Homo sapiens: one gene and its partners. The protein of the gene in region 2 purifies or fractionates together with the protein of the main gene of each other region. This does not show direct contact. Each region holds a gene or a part of one and is shown on either strand. Other genes may lie near its edges.

Region 1 (3,205 bases), about 29 Mb from region 2:
TCACTAAATTGCTATCCTCCTTTGGAGAAGCTGCTTAATCATTTAAACTCAGAAAAATTAATATCCTTTTTCTTCTGTATATGGTCACATTTGATTGCACTGTTGTGAGTATTTATTTGCTTGTTTAAATTAAAGCTCTCACTATGTTGCTTAAGCTGGTCTTGAACTCCTGGGCTCAAGCGATCCTCCTGTGTAGGCCTCCCAAAGTGCTGTGATTACAGATGTGAGCCACGGCCCCCAGCCTATAACCCTTTTTTAATCCAGAACAAATGATTAGATTAAAATGGAGTATTATTTATTTTATATACAGGGCCTTGCTTTGTCACCCAGGCTGCAGTGCAGTGATATGATCAGAGCTCACTGCACCCTCAATCTCCCAGGCTAAAGTGATCTTCCTACCTCAGCCTCCCCAGTAGCTGGGCCCACAGGTGCATTCCACCATGCCCAGCTAATTTTTGTATTTTTTTGTAAAGACAGGGTTTCACCATGTTGCCCAGGCTGGTTTTGAACACCTGGGCTCAAGTGATTCACTCGCCTCCTCCCAAAGTGCTGGGACTACAGGTGTCAGCCACCACATTCAGCCTTTTTTTCCCCCAAGAAGTGGTGCCTAACTTCACTCAGGCTGGAGTGTAGTGGCAGGATCACTGCTCACTACAGCCTTGACCTGGACTCAAATAGTCGTCCCACCTTACCTTTCTGAGTATCTGGGACCACAGGTACGTACCACCACGCTTGGCTAATTTTTTAAAATTTTTAATAGAGAGGAGGTGAGCCACTGCACCTGGCCTTAAGATAAATCGTTTTTTAAAAATGTGTATGGGCTGGGCCTGGTGGCTCACACCTGTAATCCTAGCACTTTGGGAGGCTGAAGCAGGTGGATTGCGAGGTTGAGATTGAGACCATCCTGGCTAACATGGTGAAACCCCGTCTCTACTAAAAATACAAAAATTAGCTGGGCATGGTGACGTGTGCCTGTAGTTCCAGCTACTCATGATGCTGAGGCAGGAGAATCGCTTGCACCCGGGAGGCGGAGGTTGTAGTGAGCCGAGATCTAGCCTGGTGGCAGAGCGAGACTCCGTCTCAAAAAACAAAACAAAACAAAACAAAAAAAACAGTGTATGAAGTTCTTAGGCTTCATAAGAACTTCATACTTCTTATGAAGGTATGAAGTAGGCTAAGATAAATAACTCTGAGGCTGGGCGTGGTGGCTCACGCTTGTAATCCCAGCACTTTGGGAGGCTGAGACAGGCGGACTACCTGAGGTTGGGAGTTCGAGACCAGCCTGACCAGCATGGAGAAACCCTGTCTCTACTAAAAATACAAAATTAGCCGGGCATGGTGGCACATGCCTGTAATCCCAGCTACTCGGGAGGCTGAGGCAGGAGAATCTCTTGAACCCAGGAGGCAGAGGTTGCGGTGAGCTGAGATCGCACCATTGCACTCCAGCCTGGGTAACAAGAGTGAAACTCCATCTCAGAAAAAAAAAAAAAAAAGATAAATAACTCCTGTTGCTTAAAGGCATAATTATTCATTGAATGCCATAAAGATCCTTATTTTTTTTTTGTGGTCCTGTAAGTCAAATTACAAAATGTTAAATAATAATGTCATAAATTTATGCCATTCCATATTGTGCTAAATATTTCTTCCTTAATTTATTTTACATCATTGATCTTCCATCAAGAGAACATGAAAGTCTTTGCCACATATTGGGTGACTTTCAAAGAGAATAAAACACTATTTCCCTTGCCTTTTCATACTAGGGCAGTATCTCCTCTAGCTAGTGCCCATACAGAAAATTCTATCACCATACAAAATTTAATGCAGTATTTATGTTTTAAAGCACAGGTGTACCGAAAACTGTGAAAAGTCTGAATTTATGGGTTCTATGCATGCATTTTTGCCTAACCTAGAGAAAGAGTTTGATAAATTTTTACCAGCTTTGAAGATGGATTAACTTTTGACTTTGAGCTTTAAACTTTTAAGTCAGACATTTCAGGACTAATTTGATTTTGTAGATATCATTGTAAGAACTTTATTTGAAAGACTGAATAAAGGGATTTGATTTGTTTTCATCATTTAAGCACAGTCTTGTGATGATGAGAACATAAGTGTGATTCTTTTCTGTATTTTGAGGTCCCTAATCCAAAGCCCATTTTGCTAGGATTTTTTCTGCTATCAGATGTGTTTTCACTCTAAACCTAGTCTTTTATGACATGAATTGATTACTTCCTGTTAATTTTCTATCCTCCCTTACTATCCTCCTTTTTTGTTTTCAGTATTCAGTATTTCAGTATTCTAGAGTAGATTTTGATATAAAAGAAAATAATTCTTACATCATCTTTTGCAACAAATTTTGTTTTCTGAATTGATAATAAATTTAAAAAGTTGATTCCTATTTTCACATATGTTCATATGCCCCTATGTTTGGGGGTATCACTCAGTTTTCCCTTTTTTGTGTAAAGATGTTTTGTAAAACAAAATTGTCTCAAAGTGATTATATTATATATATAAAAAGTAACAGATTTTAACAAAGGTTAAAAGATTCTTGGGGTAACAGATTCTTCTGGGGCTTGGAAATCTTCCATTTCTCTTGAGGGTTTTTTTTAATGAGTGTTAAATATGTTAAAATTTTTATTTCTACCTCATGTGTTTTTTTAAATTATTACTTGAAGTTTTTTATTTAATAAATTTTTTCTACTAATGGATCTTAACTGTGTCAATTATTATTAATACTGAATAATAATTAAACTCAGGGTTATCTAGCATGTTTTGTTTTTTTTTTTTTTGAGACGGAGTCGCCCAGGCTGGAGTGCAGTGGTGCGATCTTGGCTCACTGCAAGCTCTGCCTCCCGGGTTCACGCCATTCTCCTACCTCAGCCTCCCGAGTAGCTGGGACTACAGGTGCCCGCCACCACGCCTAGCTAATTTTTTTTTTTGTATTTTTAGTAGAGACGGGGTTTCACCATGTTAGCCAGGATGGTCTCCATCTCCTGACCTCGTGATCCACCCACCTCGGCCTCCCAAAGTGCTGGGATTACAGGCGTGAGCCACCGCGCCCGGCCGCATGTTTTCTGATAGTGACAAGTGAAGTATTGATCATGCTAGAAAGCTGAAACCAAGCAGCATTGATATTATAAAGAGATTTATGAAGGGCACACAGGATGGGCTTGATCATGGAGAGGGGTTATAGATTAGATAGGACAAA
Region 2 (5,451 bases):
AACAACCCATCTAAAAACTAATTTCAATAATGGGCACAGAAGGAGTTAATAATTGTACAGATGAAGCCATAGGGGACTAACAACTGTTAATAGCAAAGGATATCAATGAACTGAATCATTTTTCTTCAGCAATACCATCAAAACCCTCTGTGGATGTCAGGCTAGGGTCTATATTTGGAACGAAGGCTCTAAGACAAGAAGTGCCAAATAGGGCCCATTCAGTACCTTCTATTTTTTCATTTTTTTAAAAAAATTGAGGTAAAGGCCGGGCGTGGTGGCTCACGCCTATAATCCCAGCACTCTGGGAGGACGAGGTGGGTGGATCATGAGGTCAGGAGATCGAGACCAGTCTGGCCAATATGGTGAAACCCCATCTCTACCAAAAATTAAAAAATTAGCTGGGTGTAGTGGCATGCGCCTGTAGTCCCAGCTACTCAGGAGACTGAGGCAGAAGAATTGCTTGAACCTGGGAGGCAGAGGTTGCAGTGAGCCGAAATCACGCCTGGGCGATAGAGCGAGACTCCGTCTCAAAGAAAAAAAAAGAAAAATGCTTCTTTGGCATTCTGCATACATTAATATGAAAATGGCTGCTTTATAATTACAAATAAATAGCCATTTGCATGTGGTTCCTTGAATCCCAGTATGTGGGTGAACTCTCCTGGCAAAGCCCTTTAGTCTTCATATAGCTTTCACAAAATTCTTGAATTAATGCAGCACAAACATAAAAGTGACTATAAGGCCGGGCACGGTGGCTCATGCCAGTAATCCTAGTACTCTGGGAGGCCGAGGTGGGTGGATCACCTCAGGTCAGGAGTTTGAGACCAGTCTGGCCAACGTGGCAAAAACCTGTCTCTACTAACACAAAAACTAGCCGGGTGTGGTAGCGCATGCCTGTAATCCTAGCTACTCCGAAGGCTGAGGCAGGAGAATCACCTGAACCTGGGAGGCAGAGTTTGCAATGAGCTGAGATCATGCCATTGCACTCCAGCCTGGGCTACAGAGTGAAACTCAATCTAAAAAAAAAAAAAAAAAAAAGTATAAAAGTAGAAAAAATTAGAGAAAAATGAGGCCGGGCGCGGTGGTTCACGCCTGTAATCCCAGCACTTTGGGAGGCCGAGGCGGGCGGATCACGAGGTCAGGAGATTGAGACCATCCTGGTTAACACAGTGAAACCCTGTCTCTACTAAAAAAAAATACAAAAATATTAGCTGGGCGTGGTGGCGGGCGCCTGTAGTCCCAGCTACTTGGGAGGCTGAGGTAGGAGAATGGTGTGATCCCAGGAGGCAGAGCTTGCAGTGAGTGGAGACGGAGCCACTGCACTCCCACCTGGGCGACTGAGTGAGACTCTGTCTCAAAAAAAAAAGAAAAGAAAAGAAAGAAAAAATTAGAGAAAAATGAGATAATAAAGCTATTACAAGACCGTAAAAAAAAGTAAGGAAGATGGTGGCCAGGCATGGTGGCTCACACCTGTAATCCTTGCACTTTGGGAGGCCGAGGCAGGTGGATTACTTGAGGTTAGGAGTTTGAGACCAGCCTGGCCAACATGATGAAACCCTGTTTCTACTAAAAAAAAAAAAAAATAGAAAAATTAGCTGTCCATGATGGCATGGGCCTGTAATCCTAGCTGTTTCGGAGGCTGAGGCAGAAGAGTCATTTGAACCCAGGAGGCTAAAGTTGCAGTGAGCCAAGATCGCGCCACTGCACACCAGCCTGGGCAACAGAGCAAGACTTCATCTCCCAAAAAAAAAAAAAAAAAAGCCATATGTTCGTTTTCATTCAACATTTACTGAATATTATAAATAGGGTACCATGTTAGGGCTTAAGATAGAAATATGGGCAGGGAGTTTTGGGGAAGTCCATAGTCTGTTGGAGCAGAAAGACAAACATTCATTCATTTATTCATTTTTGAGACAGAGTCTTGCTCTGTCACCCAGGCTGGAGTGCAGTGGTGCCATCTTTGGCTCAATGTAACCTCTCCCTCCAGGGTTCAAGTGATTCTCCTACCTCAGCCTCCCAAGTGGCTGCGACTACAGGCACACCACCATGCTGGGCTGATTTTTAAAGATTTTTGTAGAGACAAGGTCTCACTATACTGTACAGGCTGGTTTCGAATTCTTGGGCCCAAGCAATCCTCCCACCTCAGCCTCCCAAAGTGCTGGGATTACAGGCATGAACCACCATGCCTAGCCCAGAAAGACATTTAAAACAATCACAGTAGGCTGAGGCTAGAGGATCGCTAGAGGTCAGGAGTTGGAGACCACCTTGGGCAACAAAACAAGGCCCTGTTCGCTACAAAAAAATTAGCCAGGTGTGGTGGCACGGGCCTGTAGTCTCAGCTACTCTGGAGGCTGAGGCCAGAGGATCACTTGAGCCCAGAAGTTCTTCGAGGTCACACTGCACTCCAGCTGGGGCAACAGAGTGGACCCTGCTTCTAAAATAAATAAATAAAACAATCACAGTGTAACAAGTTCTGTGTTACCACAGTGATATAAACAGAGATTGGGTTGGCATGAGAAAGAAGTAAAATTCCTGGGTTTATGGACCATGGGCCACTAACTTTAAGTGATTAATTCTTTTAATGGTGCAAATTATCCAAAATTAAAAATAACCAGGGTTGGCATGGTGGTTCACACCTGTAATCTCAGCACTTTGGGAGGCCAAGGCAGGCAGATCACCTGAGGTCGGAAGTTTAGAGACTTGCCTGACCAACATGGAGAAACCCCATCTCTACTAAAAATACAAAATTAGCCGTGTGTGGTGATGCATGCTTGTGATCCCAGCTACTCGGGAGGCTGAGGCAGGAGAATCACTTGAACCTGGGGGGCAGAGGTTACGGTCAGCAGAGATCGCACCATTGCACTCCAGCCTGGGCAACAGAGCAAAACTCCATCTCAAAAGCAAACAAACAAACAACAACAACAACACACCCGTAATACCTGGAAATACTATTAATTATGCACTTGGACTCCTGGGATGAAGAAAGCTAACAGAGAGTTAATTTTCCTAACGGTATTTTCGCTGGTATCAAGGAAAAAATCAGTGTAAGTTCATTTCCCTTTATAGGAGGGTCTAAGATTTTCCAACACGTTCAAGATTTGCTCTTAAAAATGGACCTACTAGCACCTCCTAACTACCCACACTTTCCTTAGCAAGGCACCAGTTTGTGTGGGGGCACTGAGAAGTCAAAGGAGTATTCATGTGATCATTGACACAGAATGCACAAACAGATCTCTGTCTGATGGAGTTGAAGCCTCTTGAGAATCTGGACTAGCAGCCAAAGGGAAGTGAGGGGAAGCGGGTAGGGTGGGAGGATGAGAAGGAGCAGGAGAGAGAAAAATCCCAATCAGGACTAAGTTCCAATCAAGCTCTCAAAATGCCCTTTCTGCTGATAATGCCTCAGATATTTCACTAAACTGTATTTTACTGTTCTTTAATACTTTGACTTAAGGAATAGAGGTATTCTTAGGGAATCACAAACATGGAAAAACACAATACAATAAAGACTGAAATGAAGGAAAATCCAAATAACTAAAAGGAAAAAAATTATATCCATCACCTGCAAATTCAACGTGTTCAAAAATCACATTCTCTGAAAATCAGCTCTCGTCCTAATTTTGGACAAAGTATTTCTTTTCCTCATCCTCTGGTTCAAAACCTTGGGGTCTTCTTAGAGTCCTCTATCTCCTTCAAGCCCTATAATAACTAGTTAGAACTCAAATTCCACAGATTCTTCCTTCAACATTTCTCATTGCATTCACTCAAGCAGTTTTTATTGTGTACCTACTGATGCCAATTTCAGGAGATTCTGGTGGTACAACTGGGAGGGTAGGATGTGGAGATGTATACAGCAACAGCTACTAAACTAGTCCACTAAATACATGAGTGGTTGAGAAATAAGTGCGTACTACAAAGATTCTGACGTATGAGATGCTGTCTGGCTGGGTTAATCAGGAAACCCTTGGGGAGGGGTAGGGAACTCAAGCTGGGCCTTGACTCTCAGGTCTAACTTCGATTACACAGAGCTAGTGAAGGGAATTGGGAAGGAAAGCACTCAGGGAACTACGAATAAAGGTGGCTGCCTGGAATTAAACGTCCAGGGAGCAGTGAGAAAAAAAGGCTGGGGCCAGGTAGTGGCAGGCTTTGAAGGCTTGCCCAAGAGGCCTTTAACCCTTAGGCTGCCAGGTTATTTCCCTCCCATCGCCTGCAGCTTCTTTACAGCTGACACTTTCACCAGGAACCCAGGTACAAAACAAAGGTGGCAGCAGCTGCTTTTGTGATCAAAGGGTGCTCCTTCTGCATTTAAATTTGCAGGCTGCTACTCTGAGTGACTGAACAGGAAGCTAGCTGGTCCCTTTAGCGCTAACAAAGCTTGATTTAGGCTGAAAGATTAGAAAGCACATCTTATTCTATAAACGCTTCAACACTCTGTTATCCTTCAACAACCCTAACTAGGGCTGTGATCTAAGATTGACAATATTAACTTAATCCTTGTCAAATTTGTTTTCATTTTATGGCTCCCTGGCTCAAGGATCTACAACAACTCTTAGTACAGATAACAGGTCATTCAAATTTCTCTGCCTGGAATCCAAAGTTATACACAATCCAACCCTACCAAACCTTTTCAACTTTTATCTGTTACTATTCCTTTGTACCAACTTTCTTTTCTTTTTGTTTTTTTGAGACGGAGTCTCGCTCTGTTGCCCAGGCTGGAGTGCAGGGGCGCGATCTCCGCTCACGGCAGCCTCTGCCTCCCAGGCTCAAGCGATTCTCCAGCCTCAGCCTCCTGAGTAGCTGGGATTACAGGCATGCACCACCATGCCTGGCTAATTTTTGTATTTTCAGTAGAGCGGGGTTTCACCATGTTGGCCAGGCTGGTCTCAAACTCCTGGGCTCAAGCAATCCGCCTACCTTGTTCTCTCAAAGTGTTGGCATTACAGGCGTGAGCCACTGTGCCCACCACCAACTTTCTTTTCTTAGGAGGGCTAAATTACAACAGGGCTAGTGTTACAGTCTTAAATCAGTTGAGTTGAATTCAAATTAAGCAACAGTTTAGACCATTTTTTTTCAGAAAGAAACAAAAATATAAATTTTGCAAAAACGTTTGTAAGAATTTAGCAGTCCCAGTGGCTCATGCCTGTAATCCCAGCACTTCGGGAAGCTGAGATGGGAGGATGGCTTCAGTCCTGGAGTTAGAGACCAACCTAGGCAACATGGTGAAACCTCGTCACTACAATACAAAAATTAGCCGAGCGCAGTGGCACACTCCCTGTTGTCCCAGCTACTTCGGGAGGCTTGAGGCAGGAGGATTGCTTGAGCATAGGTCGAGGCTACAGTGAGCCATGATTTCACCACTGCACTCCAGCCTGGCAGACAGAGAGGGACCTTGTCTCAAAAAAAAAAAAAAAAAAAGAGAAGAATTTGCAGTCCTTATTCAAGATAAGTCCTTATTCA
Region 3 (3,500 bases), on a different chromosome or scaffold from region 2:
ACAGGCATGAGCCACCGCGCCTCACCACGAACAAGAGAAGTTTAATGTTGGTTTCTGATCAGCATTATCCAGTGTATAATAGCATGTGAATCCCATAAAATTTACTGTAAAAAAATTATGCGGCCAGCTAAATTTGGGATATTCTAAACACCATGATCTCTTCTTGGAGTTTTTCATGCATATTATCATATGAAAGACTGTGAAATACTGTAGTAAAAGATACTTTTAATCTGTTTAAGTCAGAATTTCCTAAATTTACTTGACCTTAAAATCTTTTTCTTACATAACAGCAGGTGAAAATCTTGTATTGTTCTATTAGGGCATCGTCATCTAACCTTTGAACCTTATTTGGTTTCCATAACCAAATATACCATTCCCATGCAACTACTTCTCTAAGGAGGCTAATTCAATTTATTTAAAATTCATAACAACAATTACAAACAAGGAGTGATCAATGATCTGAAACATACCTTATGGTCGGAACAGTAAATGGATCAAACTGGTCCACTTTCTGCAAATCAATAGGCACAGATATGCGACCTGTAAGACACAAAAGTTATAAACTGATGATTGTGGACTATAAATCATTATAGTCATCTCCTACAGGTTATTTTTGGTTAAAATTTTTATTTAAGGCTTAGACAAAGGGTTAAACTTATCTGTTAAGAAGAGTATTTAGAAATATAAATTACTTTCACATTAGCTGTGCCCTTACTCTTTTTTAGAGTTAATGCCTCACTTTGTCACCCATGCTAGAGTACATACAGTAGCATGGTCATAGCTCACTGCAGGCTTGATGTCCTGGGCTCAAGTGATCCTCCCACCTCAGTTGTCTCCCAAAGTGCTAGGATTATAGACGTGAGCTACTGCTCCTGGCCTGGCCAGTTTTTCAATTTTTGTTGAGTTGGGGTCTCACTATGTTGCCCAGAACTCCTGGCCTCAAACAATCCTCTTGCCTCAGCCTCCTGAGTTGCTGGGATTACAGGTGTGAATGACCATGTCCAGCATGCCTTTTATTTCTCTTTAAAAAACCAGCCAGGTGCAGTGGCTCACGCCTGTAATCCCAGCACTCTGGGAGGCTGAGGAGGGTGGATCACAAGGTCAGGAGTTCAAGACCAGCCTGGCCAAGATGGTGAAACCCCGTCTCTACTAAAAATACAAAAATTAGCTGGGTGTGGTGGCGGGTACCTGTAATCCCAGCTACTTGGGAGGGTGAGGCAGAGAATTGCTTGAACCTGGAAGGCAGAGGCTGCAGTGAGCCAAGATCGCGCCACTGTACTCCAGCCTGGGTGACAGAGTGGGACTCTGTCTCGAAAAAAAAGGAAAGAAAAAAAACAAAAACAAAAACCAATAAGCAAATGTGAAGACTGTTGAGCTATTTCCCAGTTGCTCTTATCCCTACTTTTATTTCTATATTTAGAAATAAAGTATATTTAAATATTCCATATTTAAGTTCAGAACAATCTCAGAGTTAGTGAGTCCTGAAAATAGAACAAAATAGATGAAACTATAATATTTACATTGGCTTGGTTTATTTGAGATCAATACAGATACCCACATGTCAGACACCTTTAAAAAGCATTTAGGAAATAAAATAGAAATTCCTCTACTCTTTTATAATACCCCCCTAGGATACCATATAGAATTTAACACATCTCAAAAGTGACGTAATGAGGCTGGGCGCAGTGGCTCTTGTCTGTAATCCCAGCACTTTGGGAGACTGGGGCAGGTGAATTGCTTGAGCTCAAGAGTTCAAGACCAACCTGGGCAACATGGCAAAACCCTGTCTACAAAATATTAGCTGGCTGTGGTAGCACATGCCTGTAGTACCAGCTACTCAGGAGGGTGAGGCAGAAGGATCGCTTGAGCCGATCGGTGAGCCGAGATTGCACCAGTGCACTCCAGCCTGGGTGACAGAGTGAGACTCTTTCTCGAAAAAAATTTTTTTTTGTTTTTGTCAGTGCTAGGAGTAGAGTTCATTTCATTTCTTTCTTTTTTTCTTTTTTTTGAGACAGGGTCTCACTCTGTTGCCCAGGCTGGAGTGCAGTGGCACCATCACAGCTCACTGCAGCCTCAACTTCCCAGGCTCAAGTGATCCTCCTGCCTCAGCCTCTTGAGTAGCTGGAACTACAGGCATGCACCACCACGTCTAGCTAATTTTTGTATTTTTTGTACAAAGGGTGTTTAGACATGTGGCCTAGGCTGGTGTTAGACTCTGGGGCTCAAGTGATTTGCCCACCTTGCCCTCCTCAAGTGCTGGGATTACAGGAGCAAGCTACCACATACAGTCACACACAATTTTTTTTTTATGACCTTGGATGGGTTACATCTTGGGCCACTGTTTTCTCATCTGTACAATGAGAGCTGTTGTCCTAAGATTTTGATGGTCCTCTCCAAATCTAATATGGAACCTCAGAAACCCAACTGAAAAACAGTTACATAGTAGAAACTCATCTGGTAGCTACTTAACTGACTTAGGTATTGGGTGACAGAGCAATTCTTCTACCTTTAAATCATAGACATTATATATATTCAGACCTAATGCCATGCTTACTAAAGCCAATAGCAACTCATTTTTCTTTTAGTTTTCCTTAGTTTCCTTGTGTAGTACCTGTTTTAGGATGAACACTAAAAGGGCTCTTCAGTAGATGATTGATTCCTTTGCTGACATTGATATCCAGCCGTGGAAAACAGTACTGGAGCATAATCTCCCACTCCAGCCAGGGTCCATATTTGTCATTTTTGATGTTATTCTAAAAGCAGATACAAGGCCAACATGAGGATCAGTAGGAACTGTTGAAGATTTCTTTAAAGAAAGTTAAAAAAACGATCTTCAACCATCTTTAACTGACTAGGCAAAGCAATCAATTTAATTAAGAATTGCATTATTATATCTGTAATACAGATTTCAGTGGCATATACCTGATATCTGCTGGCTACTTTCTTCAAGTGCTCCCAACGCTGAAGTGAATTGTGAGACTTTTGGAAGCTTTGTTGAAGTTCATCATGAATTGGTGATGGGTCATTAAGGAACAGACTCATTTAGGGAACATCAATGAACAATTTAGTTTTAAGTATGTATTACCACAAGGGTGTCTTACAAATATTCAGAAAGTAGTTATTAACATTTCTTGAAATATAAATGTTGACTGGGCGTGGTGGCTCATGCCTGTACTCCCAGCACTTTGGGAGGCAGAGGTGGGTGGATCACGTGAGGTCAGGAGATCGAGACCAGCCTGGCCAACATGGTGAAACCCCATCTCTACTAAAAATAGAAAAATCAGCAGGGCATGGTGGTGCACATCTGTAATCCTAGCTACTCTGGAGGCTGAGGCAGGAAAATTGCTTAAATCTGCAAGGTGAAGGTTGCAGTGAGCTGAGATTGTGCCACTGTGCTACAGCCTGGGCAACAGAGTGAGACTCCATCTCAACAACAAAACAACCCACCCCACAAATGTTAAACTCAACAGCTGTATCCGGCCGGGCACAGTGGCTCATGC
Region 4 (3,500 bases), on a different chromosome or scaffold from region 2:
GTAACACAAGCAAAACTTACAGGTCGTTCAACAAGGTCATCTCGGCGGGTGATTTCTACCGGAAAAGCATTTCCTCGGTATCTGACATTGTACCAATGAGCCTGCAAAACACACAGTGTGCTAACTAGAGTTCTACATCCAGGAAAGTCTATTCTTCTGTGGATTCACCCATAATGATCATCTCCTGGCTGTTAGGAAATTCATGTGAGCAGCGACCCAACCCTGCCCCACTCACCACGTGGATCTTCAGGTCAATGGAGAGGCGGATGTGGTAGGGAACATCGTACTCGCGCATGTCCACAATGTTGTCCAACTGGTCAGCTATCTTCTTAGAGGTTTCCTCTTCATCAGTAATGACACCGCCCCTCTGCAGAACACTAGGAATTAACAAGAGAGCAACTAACTCAGCTGCCAGGGTCTGGAGGAGGTGAGACCAGAGTTCCAACTCAGTAGGAAGAGGTGAGACCAGAGTTCAAACCGAGGAAACACAAAAGGTAAATTGATGTGGTTTCAACGACCAAGGCAGTCCTTCCTTTAAGAATGGCTTGGACTGGGCCAGGCGTGGCAGCTCACGCCTGTAATCCCAGCACTTTGGGAGGCCAAGGAAGGCGGATCACCCGAGGTCAGGAGTTCGAGACGAGCCTGGCCAACACGACGAAACCTCATCTCTACTAAAAATACAAAAATTAGCCAGGCGTGGTGGCGCATGTCTGTAACCCCAGATACCTGGGAGGCTGAGGCAGGAGAATCACTTGAACCCAGGAGGCGGAGGTTGCAGTGAACCCAGATTGCGCCACTGCACTCCAGCCTGGGCAACAGAGCGAGACTCCATCTCAAAAAAATAAAGAATAGCTTGGATGATAACTCTACAGACAGGAGAAAATTCAGTGTAAGATGTATTCATTTTATATGATGTGAGTTACACCCCAACTAGAAAAAAAAAAAGAGGGCCAAGCATGGTGGCTTATGCCTCTAATCCCAGCACTCTGGGAGGCAGGAGGATCGCTTCGGCCCAGGAGTTCAAGACAGGCCTGGGCAACATAGGGAGACTCATCTCTACAAAAGTAATAATAATAATAATAATAATTAGCCAGGCATGGGGTACACACCTGTGATCCCAGTTACTCAGGAGGCTGAGGTGAAAGGATCGCTTGAGCCCAGGAGTTCGAGGCCACAGTGAGCTATGATTGCACCACTGCACTCCAGCCTGGGCAACAGAGCAAGACCCTGTCTCAAAACAAATAAGTAAATAGAAGAAAAAAGAAAGAAAACATTAAGTGCTGCCAGTCAGGAGAGCCAGGCATGACCATCCCACCATGGTCCTGATACTCAGGAGGCTGCCTCATGCAGGCTGAAGAGCAGGCCTGGGCTTCACACAGCCTGTGCATGGGTCTCTGCCATGTCTAAAGAAGTGGCCCACCATTGCGGCCACTATTGGCCTATAAGCTCAAATACTGAACGGGCTATTCAGGGGGAAAAAGACAGACGAGTCTCAGATATGGCTCAAGTCTCTGAGGACTCAGTCTCTGATCACACCTTCCAATATTTCAAAAAGCAACTTGTGGCATTGCCAGGGAAGGCGGACTCCGGGTAGGGACTGTAGAAATGTTCAGCATCCCAAACTGATCCTCTTTTGTCAGAGGGTAAGGTAGGTTCTTCCGAAGTCATCTAAACTTCATTACTCAAGATTTTCTCTTCCTAACTGGTTACTTTGCATCCTATTATTGTTGATGCTCAAATACTTGAAGAACAGTGTTTAGTGTTCTAGGCTTAAATTTCTGTGGACGATACCCAAGGTTCTCTGGAGATGTGCTGTGTAAATCTCAGCACTTAATGAAATTCATAGATGGATTGTGTTAGGGCAGTAGGATGAGGGATCTTTTCCCCTCTAAGGTGACTTTACTATTACAACCACTCAATTTTAGAGCCATAAACCCACCCCTCCATTGGAAAAGAGAGCTAACACATAAAATATAACCTGGGAAGCCACTGTTTATTTAACACAGAACATACAGAAATCTCTACCTAATTGCTCAAGTTTTCCGTATCAAACAGAGCCAGCCATTAAGGTAACTTTGTTGCTACGTGTTCCTGTCTCCTATCCATCTTGTCGTTCTGAACCGCTGATGCTTTGCTCACAAGACCAAAGTTTACCTGGAAAGCAGAGCTGTGTACGCGTCGCTGGCGTGATCCTGCTCCCTGTTCTTCTTCACGGCAGGGGAGATCTCCTTCCTCACTTTGACAAGATCCTCCACAGTGTGGAAGGACAGCCTGATGTAATTTCGCTTCAAACCCACCAAGTGATTTGGCTATAATGCGAAGAGATCACGCTCATTGGTTCAAGAGAAATAGGACTTTATGGGTGAGAGGGTAAACACTCAAAGGTAAACACACAAGTCAAAGAGTTGGCGACTTCAAGGCACCTTGTCCAACTCTGCACGTGGCACCAACTAACACCACTAGAGCTCTTTGGAAGGAATTTTATAGACGGTCACCACACCGCCCCATCACCCAACAGATGACCTGAATTTCTACCTCTTCCGATCCCACCTGCCAGGAACAATGTAGACTCTGGCCTCATTTACCCCTGGAAAGTCTGGGTGATACTCACCAAGTCCAGATCCTCTTTGGGGACAGTCTCCACTTTTGCAATTTTGCCCTGAAACTTCTTGGAGAGAAAAGATGAAACTTCTCGCTCACAACCCTAATCAGGATCAGAATGAAAAGGCTTTCCATTGGTAAAATACATTTCCTTCCTTGCCTATTTCCCAGTTGCAAAGCCCACCACAGAATGACACACAGGTCGTCTGACCTGAGTCTATGAAACACACTCACCTTTCTGGTCGCAATGTAGAAATACGGTTTATAGGGCAAAGCCACCTGTTAAGAGTCACCAACCCATCCAGGGGTGATGAGAAAGAAGAAAGCGAGAGAAAAGTGAAAACACATTGCTTGCTCCTATATCCCATGAACAGCCTAGGGCCAGGGTAGCCTTGACCTTGGTAGCATACAGGAAGTCAGAATGCGCACTTTTCACAGGGGCAAGAATCTGAAAGACACGCTACTTCTCACCATTCAGAGTCTTCCTGAACTGACCTCTCTCAGGACATCTTACGTGATGACTGATGGGGCCTCCAGGGGCCCGAGTTCTGCTGGGCTATGGGCTGCTGTGCACTGGAAGCCTCCCATGCCCTCCCTGACAGTCACAGAGCTACATGAACACCCATAAAAGTGGGTTTTAGCTTGTCGCAGTCAGGGGCTTACCTTAAATCTGCTTCCGTCATCTTGAATAAAGTAGTAATCCACTGCACTGCCTAAGCGCTTATCTTCATCTAAAATCTCGGTCTACAAGAGAATCAGTCAACACAGACACAAGACCATCCTCTACACAGTTAGAGAAACTTTCCTCCTACCTTTCGGGAAACTCAGCACTTTAGAAACAAACCCTCTCATCTAGGTCTTTACTCCACCCCTACATTAACACTACCAGCCTTATTCAC

What was found. Proteins that work in one complex are often made in the same cells at the same time.
Region 1: the proteins of MMS19 (region 2) and DNA2 purify together in Homo sapiens (affinity purification with mass spectrometry; 4 studies listed by BioGRID and IntAct, with this or other methods). This does not show direct contact.
Region 3: the proteins of MMS19 (region 2) and PRIM1 purify together in Homo sapiens (affinity purification with western blotting; 3 studies listed by BioGRID and IntAct, with this or other methods). This does not show direct contact.
Region 4: the proteins of MMS19 (region 2) and POLE purify together in Homo sapiens (affinity purification with western blotting; 3 studies listed by BioGRID and IntAct, with this or other methods). This does not show direct contact.

The regions. Positions count from the first base shown.
Region 1 is NC_000010.11:68,413,564-68,416,768, reverse strand, and holds the end of DNA2 (DNA replication ATP-dependent helicase/nuclease DNA2), read left to right. Parts: coding exon 1-60; intron 61-1,661; coding exon 1,662-1,730; 3' UTR 1,731-2,705; downstream 2,706-3,205. UniProt on the Homo sapiens protein: Key enzyme involved in DNA replication and DNA repair in nucleus and mitochondrion.
Region 2 is NC_000010.11:97,491,122-97,496,572, forward strand, and holds part of MMS19 (MMS19 nucleotide excision repair protein homolog), read right to left. Parts: intron 1-5,451. UniProt on the Homo sapiens protein: Key component of the cytosolic iron-sulfur protein assembly (CIA) complex, a multiprotein complex that mediates the incorporation of iron-sulfur cluster into apoproteins specifically involved in DNA metabolism and genomic integrity.
Region 3 is NC_000012.12:56,738,824-56,742,323, forward strand, and holds part of PRIM1 (DNA primase small subunit), read right to left. Parts: intron 3,015-3,500; coding exon 2,923-3,014; intron 2,754-2,922; coding exon 2,612-2,753; intron 541-2,611; coding exon 471-540; intron 1-470. UniProt on the Homo sapiens protein: Catalytic subunit of the DNA primase complex and component of the DNA polymerase alpha complex (also known as the alpha DNA polymerase-primase complex - primosome/replisome) which play an essential role in the initiation of DNA synthesis.
Region 4 is NC_000012.12:132,677,343-132,680,842, forward strand, and holds part of POLE (DNA polymerase epsilon catalytic subunit A), read right to left. Parts: intron 3,346-3,500; coding exon 3,265-3,345; intron 2,881-3,264; coding exon 2,836-2,880; intron 2,705-2,835; coding exon 2,612-2,704; intron 2,310-2,611; coding exon 2,155-2,309; intron 378-2,154; coding exon 236-377; intron 102-235; coding exon 21-101; intron 1-20. UniProt on the Homo sapiens protein: Catalytic component of the DNA polymerase epsilon complex. Participates in chromosomal DNA replication.